Linked DNA regions of Homo sapiens. The protein of the gene in region 3 interacts with the protein of the main gene of each other region in a pairwise test. Each region holds a gene or a part of one and is shown on either strand. Other genes may lie near its edges.

Region 1 (3,500 bases), on a different chromosome or scaffold from region 3:
ATTGGGTTGATACAGTGGCTCTGGAATTTAGTAATTAGGAAATATTGCAATTAGAGACGGAATTTACCCATTACTATTCCATGCATCTTAATACAGGGTGTAAGTGGTTGTAACTGTGAGCTTGGCACTAGGCATATGGGAAAATAGAAGTGAATGGAGAAATGGGATGAAGGAAGGAGGGGATGGGAGGAGCTTAACCCTTTCCATACCCGAGTAGACTGAAGGAGCAGCCTGGGGGTGATGCAGGGTTAGGGCGAGCCCAGCAGCCCACCGCATTTGTAAGAGGTGACCGAGGCAAAAATCACAGGCTCCCTCCGGACCTTCTGCTTCTTTAGCTCAGGTAGGATCAGATGCAGGGCTTGGCAGGGGTTAGGAGAGTGGTGATGGAGGCCAAGAGGGAGAGGCTGCAGGGGAGAAGGGCTCTTCTCCCAGTTTCCTGCTCAGCTGTGGAGAAACAGAAAAGAGTTGTAACCACCTGCAGTAGTGTGCATGTGAGAGACAGGAGAGGGTACCTTGTACCTTCATCTCTCCCTCCCCACTTGTTCCTTCCCCCGCCCTTCTTTTTACTCCCTTCCTCACTCCTACTCTTAGCTCCATTTTCCTCTGAAGTCAAATGAGGCATTTGTGGTATTGCAGGGCTGAGCTGGGTAGGGCCATGTGTATGGGCGGCGGAGGGAGGGGAGCGGTGGCCGGGGGTGGGAGGGTGGTAGCGTCAAAGAGGTGGTGCTCATTTTTTCCTTTCCAGACCAGAAATGCCTTCCCCAAGGTCAGCCAGTGCTCTGAGCTCCAAAGACCTTCCCAGAGAACCTCTGCTCCCTAAGGGCTGGGTGGTTTGAGAGAAATCTCTTTTCCTCACCATTGATTCCAGTCTGAACTAATGATCCAGATGTGTTGTGCATGTCCTTCCTCTTCTACAAAGTGACTCGGGAAGCAGTTTTTATGCTATTTGTAGAAAGGAAGCATTTTCTGGAGCGGGGCCTTCTCTGCTTCTGCTACACCTTAACTCCCTAGATTAGAGGAGAGCTGTGAGGCCGCAAGGAGGGGGGCCTGGAGAGGGGCTTGGGCTGAGGGTGGTAGAGGTCTCTGAGGACTGTCCTTGTCTTCTGCCTCCTGTGTTTATTTGGAGAAAAGCCCATTTAACAAATGTACAGGTCTTTACCTCTATCCCTCTTGGGGCTGTCTGCCATGTATCTTTCATTGTACCAACTCAGATGGACCAAGTGACGGCCCGGTCATAGGGCCTAAGATGGGATGTTAGGAGACGGGGTGGAGGCCTGCAAGCAGGAGGAGAGGGGACCACCCAGGCAACCCTCTAGAAGTGCAGGAAGGATGAACAAGAACCTATTGGTTAAGTGCTCTTGGGTCTTGGAGGGAAGCAGACCTAGGACTGAAATCCATCCTCACCACTAGGAGCTAAGAAGAGTTACAGGTAAACCCCAGGAAACTCAAGGGTGGCTGTGGCTAGGATCAGTGTTAGCGGGAAGCATGGAGTTAATTGGCTGTGGGAGGGCTCCCTCTCCCAGTTTGACTCTCCCACGAGTAGGAAAAGGCATCACTTTAATAAGGCTGCCCTGTTTCCAAATCAATCCTGGCATTGCAGGAGGCGAAGGGGGAAGCACAGCTGAGAAATTGGATTAGCTCTTTGATGCTGGGAACTGTGCTGGTTGCTGCTGCTGCAGCTGCAGGAGGCAGGGAAGCATCAAGAACTGAGCCTGCCATTGGCAAGCCAGCCCCAGACGTCTGAGGCTTCCCAGGGAGGCGTGCTCCACCCCCATTAGGTCTCCTACTGGTAGAGGGTGGCAGGGGTGCCCTGGGGCAGACAGTAATAGAAGCCCAGGTCCTCACCACTGCAAACCTGGAGGTGTCTTCGTGCCTCCCCTGGAGTAGATCGTGAGCCCCAAAGACCTCAGGAGGTGAGGCAATGGGGAAGGGGCAGAGGAGAGGCCCCCACAGCATGTTCTGTAGGGCATAACTGAAGCAGCGTGTGTGTGGCTGGGAGTCAGATGGCCTAGGTCAAACCAAGACTGCCACTTCCTGCCTGTGTGACCCTGGGCAAGTTACTTAAACTTTCTGAACTTCGGGGTCCTCATCTGAAAATGGAGACAGTAACACACAGGGAACAGGCCCTTGTGAAGTTTACCTTATAGCAGTAATCAAGATGGGGGCCACGGGTCCCTGGGAGTCCCTAAGAATTTTCAGGGGGGTCCATAAGGTCAAAGCAGTTTCCATGATGGCAATAAAGTTATTTGCCATTCCCATGCTTGACATTGATGGTGCTAAAGCAGTGGTGGGTGAAGCTGCTGGCACCTTACCATGAATCAAGGTAATAGTATCACACTGCACCCGTCTTTGTGTTCTTCCACACTACACACCCGCTAAGCAAAGTAATTGGTAAATAATGAAATGCCATTTTCAGTTAAGAATGTCTTCTTTTCATGAAGCAGCAAAGATTATAATTATATTGAAGCTTGATTCTGGAGTGCACATCTTTTTAATATTCTCTGTGATGGAATGAGAAGTACACATAAAGCACTTCTGCTTCTTACAGAAATATTACACAATAATTTCTCAAGCAACTGAACAGTGCCCATCACCTGTGCATCTGTTTGAGTTGCAGGCTGAACTAGCCATTTTTCCATGGGATACCATTTTATCTGAAAGAACAACCAACAAACTCCAGTTATTCAGACTTGGGTGTTGAGCAGGCATTTTTGCAAAAATGAACGAAGTGAGCTCGTCACTTCCAGAAAAACAACTGGCAGTATTTGTGGCCAATGATAAAATTTAAGCTTTCAAGCAAAAATTAGAATTTTGGAAAACTCACACATATTACTATGAAAAGGACTTTTGTGATAAGATCAGTGGGAATAGTAATAGATGTGATTTGTTAATATTGTTTAATGAAATTCATCAATATTTGAAAGATCTTCACAATTCGGCAAGCCAATATCTTCGAAATGATAAATGAATGATGTCACAAAATCATGCACAGAGGCAAACAAGCATTCCAAGTGCAAGGTTTCAGATTCCCCACTGCAGCCAGTCTTTAAGAAGCTACCACTTGGGGAGCAGTGATGTCATATCAAAGAAAAATATCCACAATGATCTGAAAAGGCTTTATTAAATACCCCTCCCCTTTCCAGTTACATATCTGAGTGAGGTTGGATTTTCTTTCATCTTTCAATCAAAGTAATGTATTGCAGACAGACCGAACACCGAAGTTGATATAAAACTCTAGCTACCTTCTAGTAAACCACACATTAAAGAGATTTGCAATGATGTGAAACAAGGCCTCCTTCTTACTAGATATTTTACTAGAGAAAACGTCTACTATATATTTTTTTGGTCTTGGAAAATATAGTTACTTATTAAATATGTTGTATTAACAGGTAATGAGTTACTATTGTATTTTGAGCTAATTTAGAAATTTCTCAGTTTTAATTTTGAATATGGTAACTATGGATGGATCTAACTTACATAAGAAAACGCTCTTGGAGGGT
Region 2 (3,500 bases), on a different chromosome or scaffold from region 3:
GCAAGCTTCCATTCTCTCTGCCAAATATAACTCATGTTAACGTAGAAAAGTGTTATCATTAGTTACCAGAGCAAATCCAGTGTACTGGATTGTGAATGCATAGTCTTTCTAATTAGGAAAATGAGAGTGTGTATTGTCTTCTTAATTTACATTTATAAAATCCTCATAAAATACAGTTAAGTCAGGGTCTTTTAAAAGAGAAGAATTCAACTGAAACCTGTCATTCTCTAGCCGGGCATGGTGGCTCATGCCTGTAATTCCAGCACTTGGGGAGGCTGAGGCAGGTGGATCACTTAAGGCCAGTCTGGCCAACATGGTGAAACTCCATCTCTACCAAAAATACAAAAATTAGCCGGTGTGGTAGTGGGCACCTGTAGTCCCAGCTACTCAGAAGACTGAGGCACGAGAATCACTTGAGCCCGGGAGGCGGAGGTTGCAGTGAGCTGAGATCGCGCCACTATATGGAGCCTGGCAATAGAGCAAGACTCCATCTCAAAAAAAAAAAAAAAAAAGAAACAAAGAAAGAAAAAGAAACCTGTCATTCTCAATTCATCTGAATCCTACCTACAGAACATTAAAGAGACCCGTATGTCTCGAACTCCTGGCCTCAAGCAATCCGCCTGCCTTGGCCTCCCAAAGTGCTGGGATTACAGGTGTGAGCCACGGCGCCTGGCCAAGGAGACCCATATGTTATTTTACTTAGGTGTTACACAATCAGACCAACGATGGTGCTGAGAGCCCTTGATAAATCATAGACCTGAGATTTGCTGACAGTGACCCAGCCGCAGTACTTATTGTTTATGTTAAATCTGAAAGACAAACAATGATACTTTCAGTGATAAATTTCAAATAATTATAAAAATATAACTGTGCAAATAACTCATTATCCATGTTTTAAGATTGATGACTCTCAAAACTCTGATTTTAGCCTGAAAGTTGCGAAATAGTTTCAAATGTCCAAATGTCTACATAAGCCAGCTCAATAGGAAGCTATTATATATAACTTTTTCACATTGCCTCAAAGTTACAGAATATATTTAAATCCCTCACTTTGTGCTAGAAACATTGACAAGGGACTTTTTCTTTAAAATTATTACCTTGGGAGGTTGTGTTCATTAGAACATTCTCATTTGGTGATCATTTTCTTGTGAGTTTCGTAATTTAAAGTCTTATATGTTAACAAAAATTGCATACCTCTAACTAGATACTGGAACTCAATAATCACTGTATAGGTGAGCTTTTTTCCTCAGTCATGTATATAACATGCAACATGCATAACGTTGCTGGCTGTATACATTTTCTATTGTGTTGTATATTAATATTTTTAAAAGAAAAATAATTTTGAAAGGAACATGAAGTATAGCACCAATCTTGATCTAATAATCTTTGGTAGAAAAAAAAGAGGCACCAACTATACAGTCTGTTCATAGTCCAGGGTCAAAATGCAGCACTATTTTTTTTTTTTTTTTTTTTGAGACAGAGTTTTGCTCTTGTTGCCCAGGCTGGAGTGCTATGGTGCAATCTTGGCTCACTGCAACCTCCACCTCCTGGGTTCAAGCAATTCTCCTGCCTCAGCCTCCCGAGTAGCTGGGATTACAGCATGGAGCCACCACGCCCGGCTAATTTTGTATTTTTGGTAGAGATGGGGTTTCTCCATGTTGGTCAGGCTGGTCTCCAACATCTGACCTCAGGTGATTCGCCTGTCTCGGCCTCCCAAAGTGCTGGGATTACAGGCATGAGTCACCGTGCCCGGCCCAGCACTATTAATAACAAACCCTCCATTCCTGAAATAACATTTCAATATAGACTGAATTATGAAAGATACTTTGACTCATTAGGGAAGATCACAGTAGAAAGGTTTTGTGTTTACACATTTAAAATATTTAACAAACTGACTCTTCTAATGACGGATACTGAAAAATATCTAGTAAAGAATAAAAGTCATACATCACAGGCTCCAAAATAGTATTACCAATCTAATTTGAGTTCTAAGTGTTATTTTATATTGGTAGTTCCTATCGCATACATGTTTAGGGACATTGAACTCCAAAATACTCTTTTTATAGCACTCATATTGAAAGGCAAAGCAACTTCTTTGGGTAGACTGGGTTAACTCCTACACTATTGCCACACTCAAGAACAGCATTTTAAAAAACTCCAGTGAGTCAAAAATTCATTGTCCCAGTCCTTGTTCTACTAGGAAGGAGTGTCTCTTACAGGAGTTTAATGTGTAAGTTGTCAGGTTTGGGCACAGCTGTACAATCTGTCATCACTGATCATCTACCCTCTTGCCAATGAAAACAAAACTTTTTCATAATCAAGCTTCCAGTGTAACTTGAAAAGCCACTGGCGAAGCATTCTAAGTGTTCATTAGAATCTGAGTGTGTCTAATTTAGAATCTAAGTGTATCTAGATTCTGAATTTCTTCAGGTTTTTCTTTGTCAGATCCACAGGCCATATTAGTTGTTATTCCTTTTTTGTTACTTTTACATCCGTTTATCAGAACAAAGCACTTAAGAAATTTTACTGATATTTTGACCCCACTAACAATTTGCACCCCCCTTGCTTTTTAATCCCAGAATCACCATTAGCTCCCTTCTGATGAAGCAGGAGTTGACTCAGCTGGGCTTTCAGCTGGACACGGAAAGCGGAGGTAGATGAATTGTCATGATCAAGTGGGTGTCATCAAGTACTTAGAAAGGTTTCATTTTGTTCCTACTGTCTTTCCAACTTACTAATAAAAATATTGAAATCTATTTCAAAAATGAGGTAGCCTCATGTTATTTTATATCTGTCAGGAATATAGTACCATGGGGAATTTTATTTCCCCAGAAAGCAAGATTACACCCCTTTAGTATGGAACACTGAACTTTAAAAGAGGTGTCCTTGAACGTGTGGAAGTGAAGACAAAGTTTACGATTTAAAATTTGATAATTTTAAAAAAGGCAAGCTAAGTAAACTACGTCCTGAGTTTCAAGATTTTTCTGAGTGATTCAAAGATGTCATGAATTTTCCAGGAGTCTTTACTGTCTCAGGAGGAGTCATCTGATAAAATGCACATTGATGGTGGGTCCATAATTGTGGTTCCGACACTTATGCAAGCTTCACACTTAACTGCGAGCATTCGGCTTTGTTCTTGAGAATCGTGACCTATTGTTCTATAGTATATTTATAACACAAAGCATTAATCTCTGCCAACTAATAATAAACAGGTCGTGGCTATGAAATTATAGTGAGCCCAGGGCCTGCTTGTCTACCTTGTTATTATTTGCTCCAGAACCATTCTTAAATTCAGCTCTAGACAGTCTTTTTAGACCAAGCTATCAACAAAAGTCAGCATGTATAGTAGAGCAGAACAAATTTTTTTTTCCTTTTTGTAGACAAGGTCTCATTTTGTCACCCAGGCTGGAGTGCAGTGGTGCAACCACAGCTCACTGCAGACTTGACCTGCTATGCTCAAGCAATCCTCTTGCCTCAGCCTCCTGAGTAGCTGGGACTAC
Region 3 (3,500 bases):
TCTTAAAAATATTGAGTCTTGCAAAACATAAACAGTATATCACTGTTATTTTAGGTCATCTTCAATTTCTTGGCAGTGTTTTGTAGTTTGCAGTGTTTTCTAGTTTACAGTGAACAGGTCTTGTGCATCTTTCATTGAATTTACTACAACATAATTTTTGCAATTAAAATTATTTTGTTTTCCAATTCATCATTTCTAATACACAAAAATTCAAATGACTTTTTAATATTGGTCTTATAATGTGTGACCTTGCTTCTGGTACCTTTTTGTAGATTTTTCTGGGTTTTCTATATACACCGTTATATTATCTGCCAATGAAGACAGAATTATTGTTGTACCTCCTTTCTAATCTCTTTGACTTTTATTTCTTTTCTTTTGTTGCACTGGCTAGGAACTCCAGTACAGTGCTGGGCGAGGTGGCTCACACTTGTAATCCCAGCACTTTGGGAGGCTAAGGAGGGAGGATCACTTGGGGCCAGGAGTTCCAGACCAGCCTAGGCAACAAAGTGAGACCTCCTGTCTACAAAAAAAAAAAAAAAAAAAAAAAAATCAGTTGGTCATAGTGGTGCACAGCTGTAGTCCAGCTACTGGGGAGGCTGAGGTGGGAGGATTGCTTGAGCCCAGAAGTTTGAAGTTGCAGTAATCTGTGATAGTGCCACTGCACTCCAATGTGGGTGATAGAGTGAGACCCTGTCTCAAAACAAAACAAAAAACAGTTGAATAGATTTTAGGGAAAGAAAAGTGTTCCATATTTCACCATTAAGTATGATGTTAGTTGTATATTTTTCATAGATGTCCTATATCAGATTGAAGAAATCCCTTTCTATTCCTATTTTCTACTTTTTTTTTTTTTTTTTTTGAGATGGAGTTTCGCTCTTGTTGCCCAGGAAAATGGGCAGTGGTCTGATCTCGGCTCACTGCAACCTCCGCCTCCCAGGTTCAAGCAATTCTCCCATCTCAGCCTCCTGAGTAGCTGGGATTACAGGCGCCTGCCACTATGCCCGGCTAATTTTTGGTATTTTTAGTAGAGACGGGGTTTTACCATGTTGGCCAGGCTGGTCTCGAACTCCTGACCTCAGGTGATCCACCCGCCTCGGCCTCCCAAAGTGCTTGGATTATAGGCATGAGCCACCACGCCCAGCCCCTATTTTCTACTTTTTATTCTGATTTTTTTCTTTGATTTTAAAGTATAAAATTTCTGTAATTATTATTTTTTTACAGTAAGTATTCATTTAGATTTATCCACCTATTTGCCCATTCCAGTGTCTCATTCCTTTCTGCATTTCCATATTTCCATGTGGCATCATTTCTTGTCGGCCTGAATAACTTTTGTGTACCTCTTTGAATATTACTTCTATCCCATTCTTTCTAATCTTCTGGAACTCCAATTACATATATGTTTAATCTTTTGAGCAGTTTTTGATCATTGTTATTTGCTTACTTCAGCATCTTGATCATCACTGGTTCTGTTTCTGTTTCTGTTTCTTTTTCTTTTTTCTTTTTGGGACTGAGTCTCGCTGTGTCACCCATGCTGGAGTGCAGTGGTGCGATCCTTGGCTCACTGCAACCTTCGCTACCCGCGTTCAAGTGATTTTCCTGTCCCAGCCTCCCGAGTAGCTGGGACTACAGGCACATGCCACCACGCCCAGCTAATTTTTGTATTTTTAGTAGAAACAGGGTTTCACCATGTTGGCCAGGCTGGTCTTGAACTCCAGACTTCAAGTGATCCGTCCCCCAGGCTTTCCAAAGTGCTGGGATACAGGCGTGAGCCACCGTGCCTGGCCTGCTTCTATTTCTTTTATTTAAACAAATTTTGTTTCCTTTATATGGCTTTGCCTTTGCATGGGTAGTAGTCATTTTCTATTGTTTGTTACATTATGTGTGAAAAGATTGTACACACTCCATGCCAGATGAAGTTGATCATTTGAGGTCAATTTTACAGTAAACAGCTTTGAATAGTACATTGCTGACATTTCATATCAGACATTTCTTAGTGCGGTGTGTTTCCAGGGAAACAGGGCTGGGTATAGTAGGGGAGCCTGACATTATCTTCCCACAGAGAAAGGGATTGACATTTTGTTAAGTCTTTCTCCATGCTTGGGCAAATCATTTAACTTTGGAACCTTCATTTCATTTTTTTTTTTTTTCTGAGACGGAGTTTCACTCTTGTTGCCCAGGCTGGAGTGAAGTGGCGCGATCTCGGCTCACTGCCACCTCCACCTCCCCGGTTCCAGTGATTCTCCTGCCTCAGCCTCCCAAGTAGCTGTGATTACAGGCGCATGCCACCATGCCCAGCTAATTTTTGTAGTTTTAGTAGAGACGAGGTTTCACCATGTTGGCCAGGCTGGCCTCAAACTCCTGACCTCAGGTGATCTGCCCACCTTGGCCTCCCAAGGTGTTGGGATTACAGGCGTGAGCCACCACGCCTGGTGCCTTCTTTTTTTTTTTTTTTTTTTTTTTGAGATGGAGTCTCATTCTTGTTGCGCAGGCTAGAGTGCAGTGGTGCGATCTTGGCTCACCGCAACCTCTGCCCCTCAGGTTCAAGTGATTCTCCTCCCGAGTAGCTAGGATTACAGGCATGTGCCACCACCCCCGGCTAATTTTGTATTTTTAGTAGAGATGGGGTTTTTCCATGCTGGTCAGGTTGGTCTTGAACTCCCGACCTCAGGTGATCCACCTGCCTCCGGCCTCCCAAAGTGCTGGGATTACAGGTGTGAGCCACCATGCCTGGCCTTCATTTCTTAATTATAAAATTGAGTTAATAAGTAGTACCTACCTTATTCTGTGGATTAATTAGATGTACATGATTAATGTTTAGCACATTGCCTGGTAAATAGTAAGAGCTCAATTAAACATTACCCTCTCATCTTCATTATCACTGGAGATCCACGTAGTACTTAGAAAATTTGTGGATTACTGAATAGCATTGAGCTACTTCTGAAGAGAAGGGGCAAATTTGTTTCATTTGGGATGCATTACTGGCAGTTTTTTATAGGTCTTTTTGGATTTATTTATTTATTTGAGATGGAGTCTTGCTCTGTTGCCCAGGCTGGAGTGCAGCGGCACTATCTCGGCTCACTGCAACCTTTGCTTCCTGGGTTCAAGCAATTCTTTTGCCTTAGCCTCCTGAGTAGCTGGGATTACAGGTGCCTGCCACCACGCCTGGCTAATTTTTGTATTTGTAGTAGAGATGGGGTTTTGCCATTTTGGCCAGACTGGTTTCGATCTCCTGACCTCAGGTGATTCGCCCACCTCGGCCTCCCAAAGTGCTGGGATTACAGGCGTGAGCCACCGCGCCCAGCCTTTTTTGTTATTTTTAAATTTGAGAGGACAAACTAGAGGACTAATTTGAGATTTTCTAGGTTTTTCCCTGTAATATAGACATTAGTATTTGCTGATTTTAGTCTGATTTTCCAAAATTGCAACTTAGAATAAATTTACTATTTAAAATAGAATATTTGGAGGTTTCTTATTACATTTATGTCTGTTTCTTTAAATAT
Region 4 (3,500 bases), on a different chromosome or scaffold from region 3:
AGGTCTGCTCTTCTCACACACGGGGAAGGCTCCAGAAACGCCTGTGGAAGGGGGGTCTGTGTGTGGAAGAAACACATTGGACGTGCTTTTCCTGTTCTCACTCACTTCACCACAAGCAGCACACACACTTCCATGTGCAGGCGTCTCCCCAGCACCGAGCAGGCAGTCGGTCCTGCGGCGGGCACCGCCGGTTGTCCTGACCCAGAGACAGCGCCAGATGCCACCCACACTTAGACACCCATCGCAAATCTGGGCCTCTGGAACTTCTGGGCCATGTTAGGGTTCCATGACCCCTCCTTGGGCTCTGTCAGCTTGCTGGAGCGGCTCACAGAGCTCTGGGAAACACGGTTGCTGATATTTTACAAAGAGCATTTTAAAGGACAGACATAAACCGCCGAGTGAGGGGATACACAGAGGGAGCTGTGGAGGGGTCCCCAGGCAGGAGCTCGGTCTCGTGGAGTGGGGCTGCCGCCCTCACGGCACACAGATGAGCTCCTGTTCACTCTCCTGCCGGCTCCCGCAAATTCAGCTCTCCCCGGAGCCTCCCAAAGCCTGTCTACTTGGGAGACCTCATTGGATAGGCGTGATGGACAATGGTGTTGAAATGTGATTGGACCTAAGGGTGCGACGTGAACCCAGCAGGGTCTGTTGAGATTCTTCTGTCCTCTGTGCAGGCTCCTTCCTCCAGGATGTCGGCAGGACCCTCTCTGGAATGAGGGTTAGAGTCCTGCCTGGGCAGGTGAACAGAGGGCAAAAGGTCAGAGAGATTCTGTTTTCTGAGGCCTAAAGCACCCCAACGTCATGACAAGAGCTACAGAAGCACTGTGGGTACGGGAGCACCACGGGTACGGGAGCACCACGGGTACGGGAGCACCACGGGTACGGGAGCACTGCGGCTATGAGAGCACCACGGGTACGGGAGTGCCGCAGGTACAAGAGCGCCGCGGGTACGGGAGCACCGTGGGTATGGGAGGGTACGGGAGCACTGCGGGTACGAGAGCGCCGCGGGTACGGGAGCACCGTGGGTATGGGAGGGTACGGGAGCACTGCGGGTATGAGAGCACCGTGGGTACGGGAGCGCTGTGGGTATGGGAGCGCCATGGGTACGGGAGCACCGTGGGTATGGGAGGGTACGGGAGCACTGCGGCTATGAGAGCACCGCGGGTACAGAAGCACTGTGGGAGTTAGCACCCTGGAACCGTGGATGAAAACCCGTGTGTGTGGGATGCGGATACACTTACACACATGTAAAATAGTATTGGGGGTGCTGTGTGGGCGAGATGGGAGCCGGGGTCATGGTCCTTTGCCTGCATACTTCTCCTTGGCTGCGGAACTTGGAACGTGTCTCAGGGATCCCAGGAGGTGCAGGTGTTCTACCTCTGAGTTTGCCCTGCTCCCTGGGTGAGTGCCAAGCCCCTGTGAGATCACCTGGGCTAACTTCTGCTTTTATAAACCTCAGGTGTGGCTGGGGACGGGATGTCACAGGCACCCCATCTCCCCATCGGGCCACAGGAGGCTTGGCCTCTGTCCCTGCCGGGAGGGCCGGGCAGAAGACGGGCGACCCACACAGCTGGCACGTTGTGAGGGCTTGGATGGAGTCCTGAGGCTGAGGGAGATGGAGCAGTCTCTGCGGAGGAAGTAGGCAGCGAGGTCAGCCAGCTTCAAGTGCGGGACCGCTGAGACCCTGTGCATCCTCGTCAGGAACGGGGACCAGGAGCAGCAGCGTCGGGTCGGCTCGGAGTGATGGAGTGTGTGGTTGTAGTTACGGTAATGAGCGCCCCGGAGAGTCTGTGCACTGAGGCCCTGGCCTGGCCCCGGGGGGATGGGGAGGGGACAGGGCGGGCCCTGGGGGGATGCGGAGGGGGTGGGGCTGGCCCCGCCCGTGCTGCCGGGAGCTTCAGCCCTCCCCAGGCCCAGTTCATCCGGTCTGCGCTTTTAAGAGTGACCATCGGGCGGTTTTCCCACTGGAACACATAAGGCGTTTGCTGCTAGAACGCACAGCCAGCCTGACCCCATGCCTGCCAGCCAGGCAAAGTCTGGGGTCTGCTTGTGGGGACGTTGCCTCTGCATGGCCTGAGGGAAGGTTTTGGGAGGGTTCTCACTAAACGGGAAAGGGAACAGGACCACTCCAGGCCCAGCCTTTGTGCCGCACGTCCTTATTTCTGCTGCTCTGACGCCGCGTTTCACCTTGGCCCTGGGTTTTAGTATCACCCGAGTGTGAATTCTGGAGGCCCAGCAGCTGCCTTCCACAACCTGAGACGCCACCTGGCAGCCTGGGCAAGGCAGGGCCTGCAGGGCTAGGGCCGGCGACCTGGGGGCTGTTCCTGAGGCTCCCTCTGGGCAGGGCTGAGTCTGGAGCCGGCTCCACTTGCGCGTCTGAAGCTCCGTCTCTTTGGGCCTGTGGGCCCTGCCCACCTTCCTCCCTTGGCACTGCAGCCTGTGGGGCACAGGGTCCCCACCTCTGCCCCCCTTGCTGTGTGGTCTTCTGGCTTCTCCGCATGGGTCCAGGCCACCGCTCCGTGGATCTTCAGCCCTCCCCGGCCTGGGTTCCACTCGCTCTCCAGACGCAGCTTGGGCAAGGGGGTGTCTCTCCCCTTTGCCACTTCCTGGGTGCTCCTGTGGTACCTGCCTGTTCCTCCGGGGCCACGGCAGCCTTGGGGTGGGCTGGAGTGACCCCCCACTTCCTGCTGTCAGACCACCCCCCATCTGGAGGCAGGTCAGAGACGTCTCAGGTTCCTTTGTGCTCCGATCTGCCTGATGGGGGCGTCGTGGTATCCCCAGCCCTGTCAGGAGTTGTGATTCTTGAAGCCATTGTGGGTAGTGGTTTCTGAATGCAGGTTTGATAGATCATGTGTGCTTCCTGTATAATCTCCAGGGTCGTGTTTAAGATGACGTATTTAAAATGTGCACACACACGTACTTAACAGATACCCAAAAAACCAAGACTTTGGGCTGGGCGCGGTGGCTCACGCCTGTAATCCCAGCACTTTGGGAGGCCAGGGCAGGTGGATCACAAGGTTAGGAGTTCAAGACCAGCCTGGCCAAGATGGTGAAACCCTGTCTCTACTAAAAATGCAAAAATTAGCTAGGTGTGGCAGGCGTCTGTAATCCCAGCTACTCAGGAAGCTGAGGCAGGAGAATCACTTGAACCTGGGGGGCGGAGGTTGCAGTGAGCCAAGATCGCGCCACTGCACTCCAGCCTGGGCAACAGAGTGAGACTCCATGTAAAAAAACAAACAAGACTTTGGTGGCGAATGGTGACATGAGCCTGAAACGTGACAGCCTGAACTTCAGCTCCTTTTCTCTGGGGACCTGCTAGTGCCACTGCCCTAGGTGAGGGAGGCGTAGATGCTGCCTGGAATCTTCCCTGGGACCCACAGCCTCAGCTCCACATTAAACCGAAGGTCTCTAGGATGTTTGATAGGAAGTGACTCAAGAATTCCCGAGTTGATCTCGTAGCAGCCCTGCTTCTGGAAAGTCCTGTGTCTCGTGTACTTGCA

The links.
Region 1: the proteins of FUNDC2 (region 3) and SYT2 interact in binary tests that used the Homo sapiens proteins (3 or more experiments, as listed by UniProt).
Region 2: the proteins of FUNDC2 (region 3) and SLC16A10 interact in binary tests that used the Homo sapiens proteins (3 or more experiments, as listed by UniProt).
Region 4: the proteins of FUNDC2 (region 3) and SLC66A2 interact in binary tests that used the Homo sapiens proteins (3 or more experiments, as listed by UniProt).

Annotation. Positions count from the first base shown.
Region 1 is NC_000001.11:202,700,455-202,703,954, reverse strand, and holds part of SYT2 (synaptotagmin-2), read left to right. Parts: intron 1-3,500. UniProt on the Homo sapiens protein: Exhibits calcium-dependent phospholipid and inositol polyphosphate binding properties. May have a regulatory role in the membrane interactions during trafficking of synaptic vesicles at the active zone of the synapse.
Region 2 is NC_000006.12:111,227,003-111,230,502, reverse strand, and holds part of SLC16A10 (monocarboxylate transporter 10), read right to left. Parts: 3' UTR 1-3,500. UniProt on the Homo sapiens protein: Sodium- and proton-independent thyroid hormones and aromatic acids transporter.
Region 3 is NC_000023.11:155,029,844-155,033,343, forward strand, and holds part of FUNDC2 (FUN14 domain-containing protein 2), read left to right. Parts: intron 1-3,500. UniProt on the Homo sapiens protein: Binds directly and specifically 1,2-Diacyl-sn-glycero-3-phospho-(1'-myo-inositol-3',4',5'-bisphosphate) (PIP3) leading to the recruitment of PIP3 to mitochondria and may play a role in the regulation of the platelet activation via AKT/GSK3B/cGMP signaling pathways.
Region 4 is NC_000018.10:79,913,654-79,917,153, reverse strand, and holds part of SLC66A2 (solute carrier family 66 member 2), read left to right. Parts: intron 1-674; coding exon of another isoform or gene 675-723; exon of another isoform or gene 724-966; intron 967-1,459; exon of another isoform or gene 1,460-1,764; intron 1,765-3,500.